3 linked regions of the Homo sapiens genome follow. The protein of the gene in region 1 purifies or fractionates together with the protein of each later gene. This does not show direct contact. Each region holds a gene or a part of one and is shown in the gene's direction. Other genes may lie near its edges. The genes, in order: PHYH, PBLD and ABCD3.

Evidence for each region.
Region 2: the proteins of PHYH (region 1) and PBLD fractionate together in Homo sapiens (co-fractionation; one large-scale study listed by BioGRID). This does not show direct contact.
Region 3: the proteins of PHYH (region 1) and ABCD3 purify together in Homo sapiens (co-immunoprecipitation; one large-scale study listed by IntAct). This does not show direct contact.

What each region holds. Positions count from the first base shown.
Region 1 is NC_000010.11:13,290,034-13,293,763, reverse strand, and holds part of PHYH (phytanoyl-CoA dioxygenase, peroxisomal isoform a precursor), read left to right. Parts: intron 1-1,851; coding exon 1,852-1,933; coding exon of another isoform or gene 1,934-1,939; intron 1,940-3,730. UniProt on the Homo sapiens protein: Catalyzes the 2-hydroxylation of not only racemic phytanoyl-CoA and the isomers of 3-methylhexadecanoyl-CoA, but also a variety of other mono-branched 3-methylacyl-CoA esters (with a chain length of at least seven carbon atoms) and straight-chain acyl-CoA esters (with a chain length longer than four carbon atoms).
Region 2 is NC_000010.11:68,298,429-68,301,928, reverse strand, and holds part of PBLD (phenazine biosynthesis-like domain-containing protein), read left to right. Parts: intron 1-3,500.
Region 3 is NC_000001.11:94,515,748-94,519,365, forward strand, and holds the end of ABCD3 (ATP-binding cassette sub-family D member 3), read left to right. Parts: intron 1-1,304; coding exon 1,305-1,382; 3' UTR 1,383-2,916; downstream 2,917-3,618. UniProt on the Homo sapiens protein: Broad substrate specificity ATP-dependent transporter of the ATP-binding cassette (ABC) family that catalyzes the transport of long-chain fatty acids (LCFA)-CoA, dicarboxylic acids-CoA, long-branched-chain fatty acids-CoA and bile acids from the cytosol to the peroxisome lumen for beta-oxydation.

The sequences.
Region 1 (3,730 bases):
ACAAGATTAAATAAAAAGGCCAGGCGAAGTGGCACTTTGGAAGGCTGAAACAGGAGAATCACTTGAGGCCAGGTGTTCAAGACCAGTCTGGCAACATAGTGAGACCATTGTCTATATTGGAAAAAAAGAAAAAAACAAAGATTGAATAAGAGAAGTGAGCTAACTGCCGGGCGCGGTGGCTCATGCCTGTAATCCCAGCACTTTGGGAGGCCGAGGTGGGCAGATCACGAGGTCAGAAGTTTGAGACCAGCCTGAGACACATGGTGAAACCCAGTCTCTACTAAAAATACAAAAATTAGCTGGGCATGGTGGCGGGCGCCTGTAATCCCAACTACTCAGTAGGCTGAGGCAGGAGAATCGCTTAAACCCGGGAGGCAGAGGTTGCAGTGAGCCGAGATCATGTCATTGCACCTAGCCTGGGCAACAGAGCGAGACTCCATCTCAAAAAAAACAAAAACAAAAACAAAAAACAAAAAACAAGTGAGCTAACTAAGGGTAGGGAAATCATTGGCTAAATAACAGTACAAGTTATGTCAGAAGTTGTGAGGATGGCTCTTGAATGGCTGGCATTTAGAAAATCCCAGCCTAGATGAATACAAAAAAATACCAGGCTTTATAAAAAGCAAGTGTGTGCCTGACTGCTAGGCTTTTAATAACCTTTCCAGGGTTTCATACTCAAATTGCCAATATTCCTTATACACAAGAGATCAAAAAGTGAGGAAGCAGTAGAAGGTGGCTTATTTTTTGGAGTCTTTTTTTTGCAGAATCAAAATTTGAATATCATGGGTTGTTTTATTTTCTTCTTCTTCTTCTTTTTTTTTTTTTTTTTTGAGACAGAGTCTCACTCTTGTTGCCCAGGCTGGACTGCAGTGGTATGATCTCAGCTCACTGCAACCTCTGCCTCCTGGGTTCAAGTGATTCTCCTGCCTCAGCTTCCCAAGTAGCTGGGATTACCGACGTGTGCCACCATGCCCGGCGAATTTTTGTATTTTTAGTAGAGATATGGTTTTGCCATGTTGGCCAAGCTGGTTTTGAACTCCTGACCTCAAGTGATCCGCCCGCCTCGGCCACCCAAAGTGCTAGGATTACAGGTGTGCGCTAACGCACCCGACCTCAGTGTTGAGCCCTTTCTGCTTTTTCCCTCTCCGTTGCTGGGTTCTGTACACAAGGTAGCGGCAGCCCAGCTCCCAGGCCCCACGACTAAACCAGCTCTCCCTGTCACGGTTCCCCATGTTAGCCTTTTCTTCATAATGCAGTGTCCCTCGGCCACTCTGACCCATGTCATTACTGGGTTAACATTTTTCATCTAACTCCTGGGACCTGCTTTGCTTGTTCACTCTTGCTTCCCCATTTCCCGTCACCTCCTGGTTCCCAGATCTCAGTAATGAGTTGTCAAGTGCCAAGCGTCCCCGATTGTCAAATGTCCTCCAAGCCACCATTCTGCTTTCTTCCGGGCTATTCATGACAGCTGTGAATTGTATGGGACTCTTCGTATGCAGAGGCTCCAATGAGGAAGAGGAAACTGCCCTCCCACTGAGCAACCTTCTGTTGCTTGGGTTGACAAGAAAGCTATATTAATATCTCATCGGAACTCCTATGTTTCTTGTAGAGAAAAAATGGTTTCATTCCCAGCTAGCTCAGAAAAAGCCCATTTCATTCCGTGTTATAGATTTAGAATGATTTCCAATGGCTGGGTTTTTCATGCTTTGTTTGCAATGTTGTGAAATACCGCTTGGTTCTTAAACTATTGCCTTCTTGGTTCTTGTGTGGATAGCTACTGTACTTTGTACCAGTTGTCAATACTTCTGATTTCCCACAAGGTTTGTTTTTGTTTTTTTTTTGCTTTCTTAGATTCTGAAATATGTGGAGTGCTTCACTGGACCTAATATTATGGCCATGCACACAATGTTGATAAACAAACCTCCAGATTCTGGTAATTGTAAGGGAGAAGAAAAAAAAATGGTTTCATTAAAATGTGTAAGGTTGGCTGGGTGCAGTAACTCATGCCTGTAATCCCAGCATTTTAGGAGACCAAGGGAGGAAGATCTCTGAGGCCAGGAGTTTGAGAGTGGCCTGGGCAACATAGTGAGGCTCTGTCTCTAAAAATAAAATTTAAAAATATCCAGGCATGGTGGTATGCACTTGTAGTCCCTGCTATTGGAAGGCTGAGGTGGGAGGATCACTTGAGCCCAGGAGTTGAAGGCTGCAGTGAACCTATAATGGCATGCTCTCCAGCCTGCGTGACACAGTGAGACCCTATCTCTACATAATAAATAAAACAAAACAAAACAAAATAATAAAATAGCTGATGTCTAACTGTAATCATGTGTACAACTGTCAAACTTTGGATAAGGAAGTCTTAAAATAACTTACACTATAACAACAGTGAAATGTGGTAATTATTTCAGATATTAACTGTAGGACTGTTGCTGAATTTTCAGATGACTGGCTCCCCAAAAATGCAGTTTAACCGACATAACTGTTCATATATCAAAGGTTCCTGCCATTCGACGTCTCTAAGCTTGATCAGCTCTTTTTAGCTGTGATAGTGTGGATTCTTGCATTCCTGATAGGAAGACATTATTATTACTAACACAATTAAAATTGTTACTATGAGTCACAAACTATAGTGGTCTTTTTTTTTTTTTTTTTTTTTTTTGAGATGGAGTTTTGCTCTTGTTGCCCAGGCTGGAGTGCGATAGCGCGATCTTGGCTCACTGCAACCCCCACCTCCCAGGTTCAAACAATTCCTGATTCTCCTGCCTCAGTCTCCCAAGTAACTGGGATTACAGGCATGTGCCACCAAGCCTGGCTAATTTTTGTACTTTTAGTAGAGACAGGGTTTCGCCATGTTGGTCAGGCTGGTCTCGAACTCCTGACTTCAGATGATCCACCTGCCTTGGCCTCCCAAAGTGCTGGGATTACAGGTGTGAGCCACCGCGCCCAGCCTATAGTTGTCTTTAAAATGTCTTGTGCTTGCTAAAATGTAGAATCTAAGACCTCATTGGCAGACAGACTGATTGAGAAATATAACCCAGGTTTCTGTATTTTAATAACCTTCCTCAAGCTGGGCGTGGATGTGCACCTGTGGTCCCAACTACTCAGGAGGCTGCGGGGGGAGGATCGCTGGAGCCCAGGAGTTCAAGTCCAGAGATTGTAGTGCAGATCACTTGGACTACACTGGGAAATTCCTCTGTGCCTGCAGTAAAAATCAGCCATGAGAGAGTCCCCCTATCCTTTCTGCCTTTTCTTCCTTCTGATCTGCAGGAGGGGTTTATGTGATAGAAGGCAGCTTAGCATTACCAGGTCTCTCCCTCCTTGAGGAGAGCAGGTGTTCGGGAGCCACACTCAGGGAGCAAACCAGGGGAAAATGTCAGTGTGGTCATGGGCACTCCGACTGGACATGGAATGACTATAGTTGTGGGGGGTGAGGACCTCTTAGATAACTTTTTTTATTTTTATTTTTTTTGAAATGGAGTCTTGCTCTGTTGCCCAGGCTGGAGTGCAGTGGCTCAATCTCGGCTTACTGCAACCTCTGCCTCTGGGGTTTGAGTGATTCTCCTGCCTCATCCTCCTGAATAGCTGGGATTACAGGTGCCCACCACCACACCCAGCTAATTTTTTTTTTTTTTTTTTTTTTTTTTTTTTGGTATTTTTAGTAGAGACAGGGTTTCACCATGTTGGTCAGGCTGGTCTCGAACTCCTGACCTCAGGCAATCTACCCGGCTCA
Region 2 (3,500 bases), about 55 Mb from region 1:
GGCAAATAGCAGGTGCATTTTTTAGTGTCCTGAAATAGAAGTTACAGTTATATAAATTCAAATTGCAAGAAATGCAGTATACCAAGGTAGAGAGGATTAAAGAGCTGGTGGGCAGTGGACTTTGCGTCCTAGCTAATGTGTGAAAGGGCCCATTTGCAAAGAAATCTATTACCAATAGATGGTGAGCTTGGCTACAATGTAGGATGTTTTAATACTTTTAAAGACTTATCCTAAAGGTCACAGGGAGCTATAGAGAAAGAAAGGAAGGACGAAGATAGGAAGTTTCGCCAGATCATATAGAGGAAGGACTGACAGGCACTTTAGGTTTCTGCAAGCAAGGAGGCAAGTCCAGGAAGGCCAGCAAAGGCTTTTCTTGATCACCTTTCGATTACCACTGAGACTTGTGATTGCAGACTCTGCACTAAGGGGCTTAAATACCTCCCAGTTTCTATCAGGTGTTGTGTGCATGTGCATCTGGACCAGTTTCCACAGAAAACATTCAACAGGCCATGGAGAGTGCTTGAGTTCAATTGTTAACATTGTTGTCTTGTTGGCTGGGACTTTCCAGTGGCCCCCTCTACTCCTCTTCTTAGGTGGGATTTCTCACTTATCCAGGCCCACAGGTGCCCACAGGTGGGACAGGTACTCATCCCACTGCATTTTCACCATCCTACTTCTAGAATTCTAGAGTGTCCATTATGTTAAAGTTTAATCTCTGATTTAACAAGAGAATGGGCGGGTGCGGTGGCTCATGCCTGTAATCTCAGCACTTTGGGAGGCCGAGGTGGGTGGATCACCTGAGGTCAGGAGTTTGAGACCAGTCTGGCCAACATGGTGAAACCTCATCTCTAATAAAATACAAAAATCAGCCGGGTATGGTGGCACACACTTGTAATCCCAGCTACTCAGGACGCTGAGGCAGGAGAATCACTTGAACCTGGGAGGCAGAGGTTGCAGTGAGCCAGATCGCACCACTGCACTCCAGCCTGGGTGACAGAGCGAGATTCCGTCTCAAAAAAACAGAACAAAACAAAAAAACAGAAGTGAGATCAAGCAACTTGCCTAAGAAGCTGTCCTAATACAAAGCTCTTTGCACACACTTTTCTGTCCAAATCACCGAAATCTCCCCTCTTTTCTAGGTTCACCACAAGACCTCATCTTTAAAGTTTTAGAGTATTTATTGTCAAAATCTATGTGTCTCAATGACATTTTCTCTGGTATTGTTCACAGTTGCTGTCTGTGGCTGTCTTGACTCCCCACCTAGATGCTAAGTCCCTTGAACACAACCATGGCTTATACACAAGGGTTTCTCAAACTTTAATGTGCACACGATCACCTGGGGAGCTTGTGAAAATGGAGATTCTGATTCAGAATGTCGGAGGCCCAAGACAGGGGGCCTCGGACTCTGCATTTCTAACAAATCCCCTTAGTTGTGTTGCCGTGCTCCTGGCTCAGCACAGTACTCATTAATTTATTTATTGCTGTTCCGTCTTAGAAACCTTGCAGGGGTCCATTTTCTCTGCTAGACGTTTGTTTTCCCTGTCTGTAGCATGTTACAGGGTTAATAATCGTTTGTCTTTGTGATGGGCAGGCAGTGTAGTGTGGCTAGTTAAAGCATGACTTTGAGCCACTCAAATAAAAAGCTAACATGTATCAAGTACCTACTACGTGTTGGGCACTGGGATGAGTTATCTCTTTCTCTCTCTCTTTCTGTTTCTTTCAGTCTCTCTCTGGGTAAGCCGGGGCGTAGAGGATCATGCCTGTAGTTCTAGCACTTTGGGAGGCCAATATGGGCGCATTGCCTGAGCTCAGGAGTTCCAGACCAGCCTAGGCAACATGGTGAAACTCCATCTCTACTAAAATACAAAAAATTAGCTGGGCATGGTGGTCTGCACCTGTAGTCCCAGGTACTCAGGAGGCTGAGATGAGAGAATCGCTTGAACCCAAGAGGCATAGATCGCAGTGAGCTGAGACAGTGCCACTGCACTCTAGCCAGGGTGACAGAGCGAGACTCTGTCTCAAAAAAAAAAAAGCTTATTATGTTTCCTGCCATGATTTATTTATTTATTTATTTTTGAGATGGAGTCTTGCTCTGTCACCCAGGCTGGAGTGCAATGGCATGATCTCGGCTCACTGCAACCTCTGCCTCCCGGGTTCAAGTGACTACTGCTCAACCTCCTGAGTAGCTGGGATTACAGGCGCGCACCACCACTCCTGGCTAATTTTTGTATTTTTAGTAGTGATGGGGTTTTGCCATGTTGGCCAGGCTGGTCTCGAACTCCTGACCTCAGGTGATCTACCCGCCTCGCCCTCCTAAAGTGCTGGGATTACAGGCATAAGCTGCCACACCTGGCCCCTGCTAAGATTTTTATATCAGCCGGTAGTTTTAAAATCATGACTGATTTTTCACAATAATCACACTTTTATGCCCTATATAATTATATGGAACATGTTTCAAAAGATTTTGAATCAAAGACAAGAGTGTTTAATTTGGATAACTCAGAGAAGTGAATTATGAATTTATTAATATAAAATTATAATTCTTCTGGGTTTCAGGAGATCAAGAGCAATAAATTTGGCCAAAACAAAAATGCATTTGTCTTGAAATTTCTTTAAAATTCAAAATCTAACTAGTAGATTTCCGTTAGAAAGAGTTTCAGGAGATCAAGAGCAATAAATTTGGCCAAAATAAAAATGTGTTTTCTTGAAACTTCTTTAAAATTCAAAATCTAACTAGTAAGCATTTTATTGATTAAAAATGGATTTTTCTTCTCAAAAGGAAAACATACTTCGGGTCCACTTTTTTTTTTTTTTTTTTTTTTGAGACGGACTCTCACTCTGTCACCCAGGCTGGAGTGCAGTGGCGCGATCTTGGCTCACTGCCACCTCTGCCTCCCAGGTTCAAGCAACTCGCCTGCCTCAGTTTCCCGAGTAGCTGGGATTACAGGCGCGTGCCACCACTCTCGGCTAATTTTTTTGTATTTTTAGTAGAGATGGAGTTTCTCCATATTGGCTACGCTGGTCTCAAACTCCTGACCTCGTGATCCACCTGCCTCAGCCTCCTAAGGTGCTGGGATTACAGGTGTGAGCCACCACGCCCAGCTGGGTCCACTTTTTTCTTGAGTTAAGAGGAATGTGTGTGTGTGTGTGTGTGTGTGTGTGTGTGTGTGTATTCGTATGCATGTATATATCTTCACAATAAACCTTGACTTAAGTGCTATTATTCCCATCTTAAAGGTGTGGAAACTGAGGCCATAAGATTAAATGACTTGCCCACTTTTACACTGCTGCTAGGAGCTCACACAGGATAGAAATTCAATTCTGTTTTCAAACCCACATAATTTTTCTAAATATTTTATTTTGAAAAATTAAAAACCTACAGAAAAGTTTCAAGAATGGTATGATGAACATGCATATTCCCTTTCTCTAGATTCACCAGTTGTTACTGTGTAAAAAAAAATTTTTTTAGAGTCAGGTTCTCGCTATGTTGCACAGGCTGG
Region 3 (3,618 bases), on another chromosome or scaffold:
CTTTTCAACTCAATGTGAAATGCTCAAAACCTGAAAGTAAACCCAGTTTAATTCTCTTTATTTTCTTTCCTCCTCCCTCCCTCCCTCCCTTCCTTTCTTCCTTCCTTTCTTTTCTTCTTTCCTTTCTGTCTTTCCCCCTTCCCTCTTTCCTTTCTTCTCTTCTTTCCTTCTTTTCCTTCCTAAATGATATAGAAATTTTAGGTAAAAGCAAGGATTTGAGAAAAATTGGAATAATGGTAAAGGTGCCTTGTTCCACAAAATACATACCTGATTAAGGACCTTTTTTTGCCAGATACTGAGCTAAGTGTCATGAGGGATGCAAATTAATTACAGTTTTTACCTTCAAGAACTTTAGGATGTAGATGATAGTCTACAAGTGATAAAATGAAGAGCATAGGATTTGAAGTCAGAGAGCCTGGGTTCAGGCACCAAAGTTTCTAGCCTCAGTTGCTTCCTTTGTATAATGAAGTTATTGAGCCTTACCTTCCTATCTCTTAGATTACCATGAAAATTAGACAGGTAGCCTATATGAAAGTACTTAATAAAATTCAGTGAAATTCTATATAACTGTGTGACTTTTAAAGATAGCTTTTATTATTTTATGGCATATTATAACTTGTCAATTTTTCATGAACTGAGCAGGAAATTGAATAACTAGAAATCAAAGGCATTTAAAATATAGCCAAGCCTTTATGTTTTCTCGGAAGTTCATAAGTATTATAGCCATAGGACATTGAGAGGAATTGAGAGCATTTGGGTTTCACCCTTCCTCTTCTTTTGGAGGTATAGACAAGTAGCAAAATAATCATCACGCCAGTGATCATGTGAAGGAGGGGAACACAACTAGAATGTGAGGGGCCAGGATAGCTAAGAAATAGTAATACAGAAAATGGAAACTCAGAAAGCTTTCTGAAAATAAGCCACTAAATAAAAACAGAAGGCTTTGTAACTGCTGTTGTGTCTTCAGAGGTTAGGATATATCGGCAGTTTTTATAGCTCTTTTTCCCCTCTACTAAATTAAAAACAAATAAAAAGCCTTAAGCTGGAGATTTCAAGCTGATTAGGAAATCAGGCTACAGGAAACAATACTGACTGACCTATGGAACAGTCTTGCATTTAGCACAGTTTAACCTACTGGTAGCTGAGATCCTTGGTCATGGAGTTACGGAAGCATTCTGATTTGTGGGATGCTTATAGATTTAGCTCCCTTAAAATAATGAGGAAGTCTGTATTTTACTTTTCATAAAAGACAGTACTATATTCACTCTTAGTTACTGACTTTTTTTCCCCCTTCTTTCCCATAGTACTACCTGCATATGGATGGCAGAGGCAACTATGAATTCAAACAGATAACAGAAGATACAGTTGAGTTTGGCTCTTAGAGAAATCTGGAGAACTATACCTGCTTCAGTGAAATAATTACAGAATATACTTAGAAAGGCAAAGTACATTGTAAAATAAAGTTGAGCTTAGTTTTTTTTAAAAAAAAAAACAAAGCAACAAATTAACTAGATACAGAATAATGGAGAACAAGTTGTTAAAACATTTAATATTATATAGGATATTGCTAATTGTGTATATGTTGGTTTAATTAATAATATGTACTAAGAATGTCCTTATTCTTGTGGTTAAAAACCTGCCTAAATTAAATTGGGCTTCAATCACTGTAACCTGATTCATCCTGGGATGTAAACCATTCGAAGTCAGCTAATTGGACTTTTATGGCTCTATCTTTTCCTTCAGTGAAGAACCCTATTTAAAACTGGGTCATCATTTGTCCTGTTCTAGCAAGATAGTCTTCAGTTTCATTTTCCTGTGCCCTGTGGTAGTTGGAAACAAATCATAATGTATTATTTAAATGTTTAACATCATTGCATAACAGCGTTTATTATACAGTGGCAGATTTCTTTAGCTGCCACAGTAATACTCATTCCTTGTGTGTGTCTTGGAGTGCATTTGACTCCAGGAAAAGCCATTTTGGTTTTCCTTAACTAAATGATAAATGTACCCCTCTCAGTCTGCAGTATTGAGTTGTTTAAAGTATATGTGCAGTCTTGCTTACAAGGAGGGGTTACCATGTATCACACCTAATCTTCCCAATGTTTGGGATATTAAAACACAAAGTCCTTAACATGCCAGGCTCAAGGTCTTATAAGAGTTCTAGATTTTTAAGAGAATTAGACAAATTTGTGTGTGTTAGAAGCCCATTCATTAGAAGTGTGGTGGTTATTTGGTATTAAACTCCAAATGAGCCATAGGAAGGCACTACATGAAATAATGCACTGAGTATGCAATGCTATCACTGTCTTTGACTGTGATTTTATGTTTAAAAAGTATGTTCTAAAATTATTATATATACATGGGTGAATTATGTTTCCGAGGCACTGTTTTATCTCTGTGAATCTTGAATAACTTTTTTATATTTGGGTTATGATGTCAAACGATCCTAAGCGAAGATGATTTCAGTTCATCAAATCATCATTAATGACTTTATGTATTATTTGCACAGGGAGAATTGAAACTGAGTATAATCAATAAGCTAGATACGAAATCAGTTTCTCAAACTGAGCTTCAGAAAGGGGCATTTTGTACTCTTGTTTTTGCATAACTGGTTTTGTTTTTTTGCAGAATTAACTATAACAATCACTGGCTACCGAAGTAAACTGATGTACTGAATTCCATAATACATAACATTCAATTTTTACCACTTCTGTTTAGCGAACTTGTATACTTATTTTCTGTTCAGATTAAAAAAAAAAAAAAAAAACTCAGATATCCTATACAACCTTTGCTTGTTCTTTTTATTCTGGTATCTAAATACTGAGAAGTTCATTTATAATTCAGCCTTGACTTGAAAACATAGATAGTTTAATCTTGACTTGAAAAACACAAAAATAAATTCAGAAAATGCTTTTAGCACAGTGTCTCTTTTTTAAAGTTTTGCCAAGTGTGGTTTTTAATTGAATGAATTTCTCTTTTAGAAAAGTTCAGTAAAATCTGTGTACCTGACAAATGCTACCAAACAGCCAGGAGACCTTAAAAGATACTATTCGTCTTGGAAAAGATTTTAAGGCATGGGAAAGTTTCAGATTTTCAGATTTCTGGGTTACCTTAAACCTACTCGTAGAAGTATTCTCCTAGCTGCCTTATAATTGCTTTTGTTATGATTCTTGCCATCAAAACAACAACAACAACAATTTGGGCTTTTTTTCTTAATTATTTTCTTTTTTATGTAACAAATATTACAGTGCCTCACCATTTGAGGCACAGAGGAAGATCCTTCTGGAGAATCACATTAACATAATAGTGGTTCTTCGAAGACCCACAGTAAAGAAATCCATTGGTTCAAAAACATGATTGACCACGGAACATCTTTTTCTACATAATTCCTATTAACACCTTCCAGAAACTGCAGTGGGAAATGGTAGTTTAATCCGAAGAATAAACCAAAGAATAAGAACTTTCATCCATGAGCACCACGCTGCATGCCAAGACATATCACCGTGTTCTCATAATAAGTTTTTACTTTTTATATAATGAGAAAATAAGTATGAAACAGCAATGGTAGTTTGTTTTGCATTAATAGAATAAAATATATCTAGCATTTGTCTCTTTCTC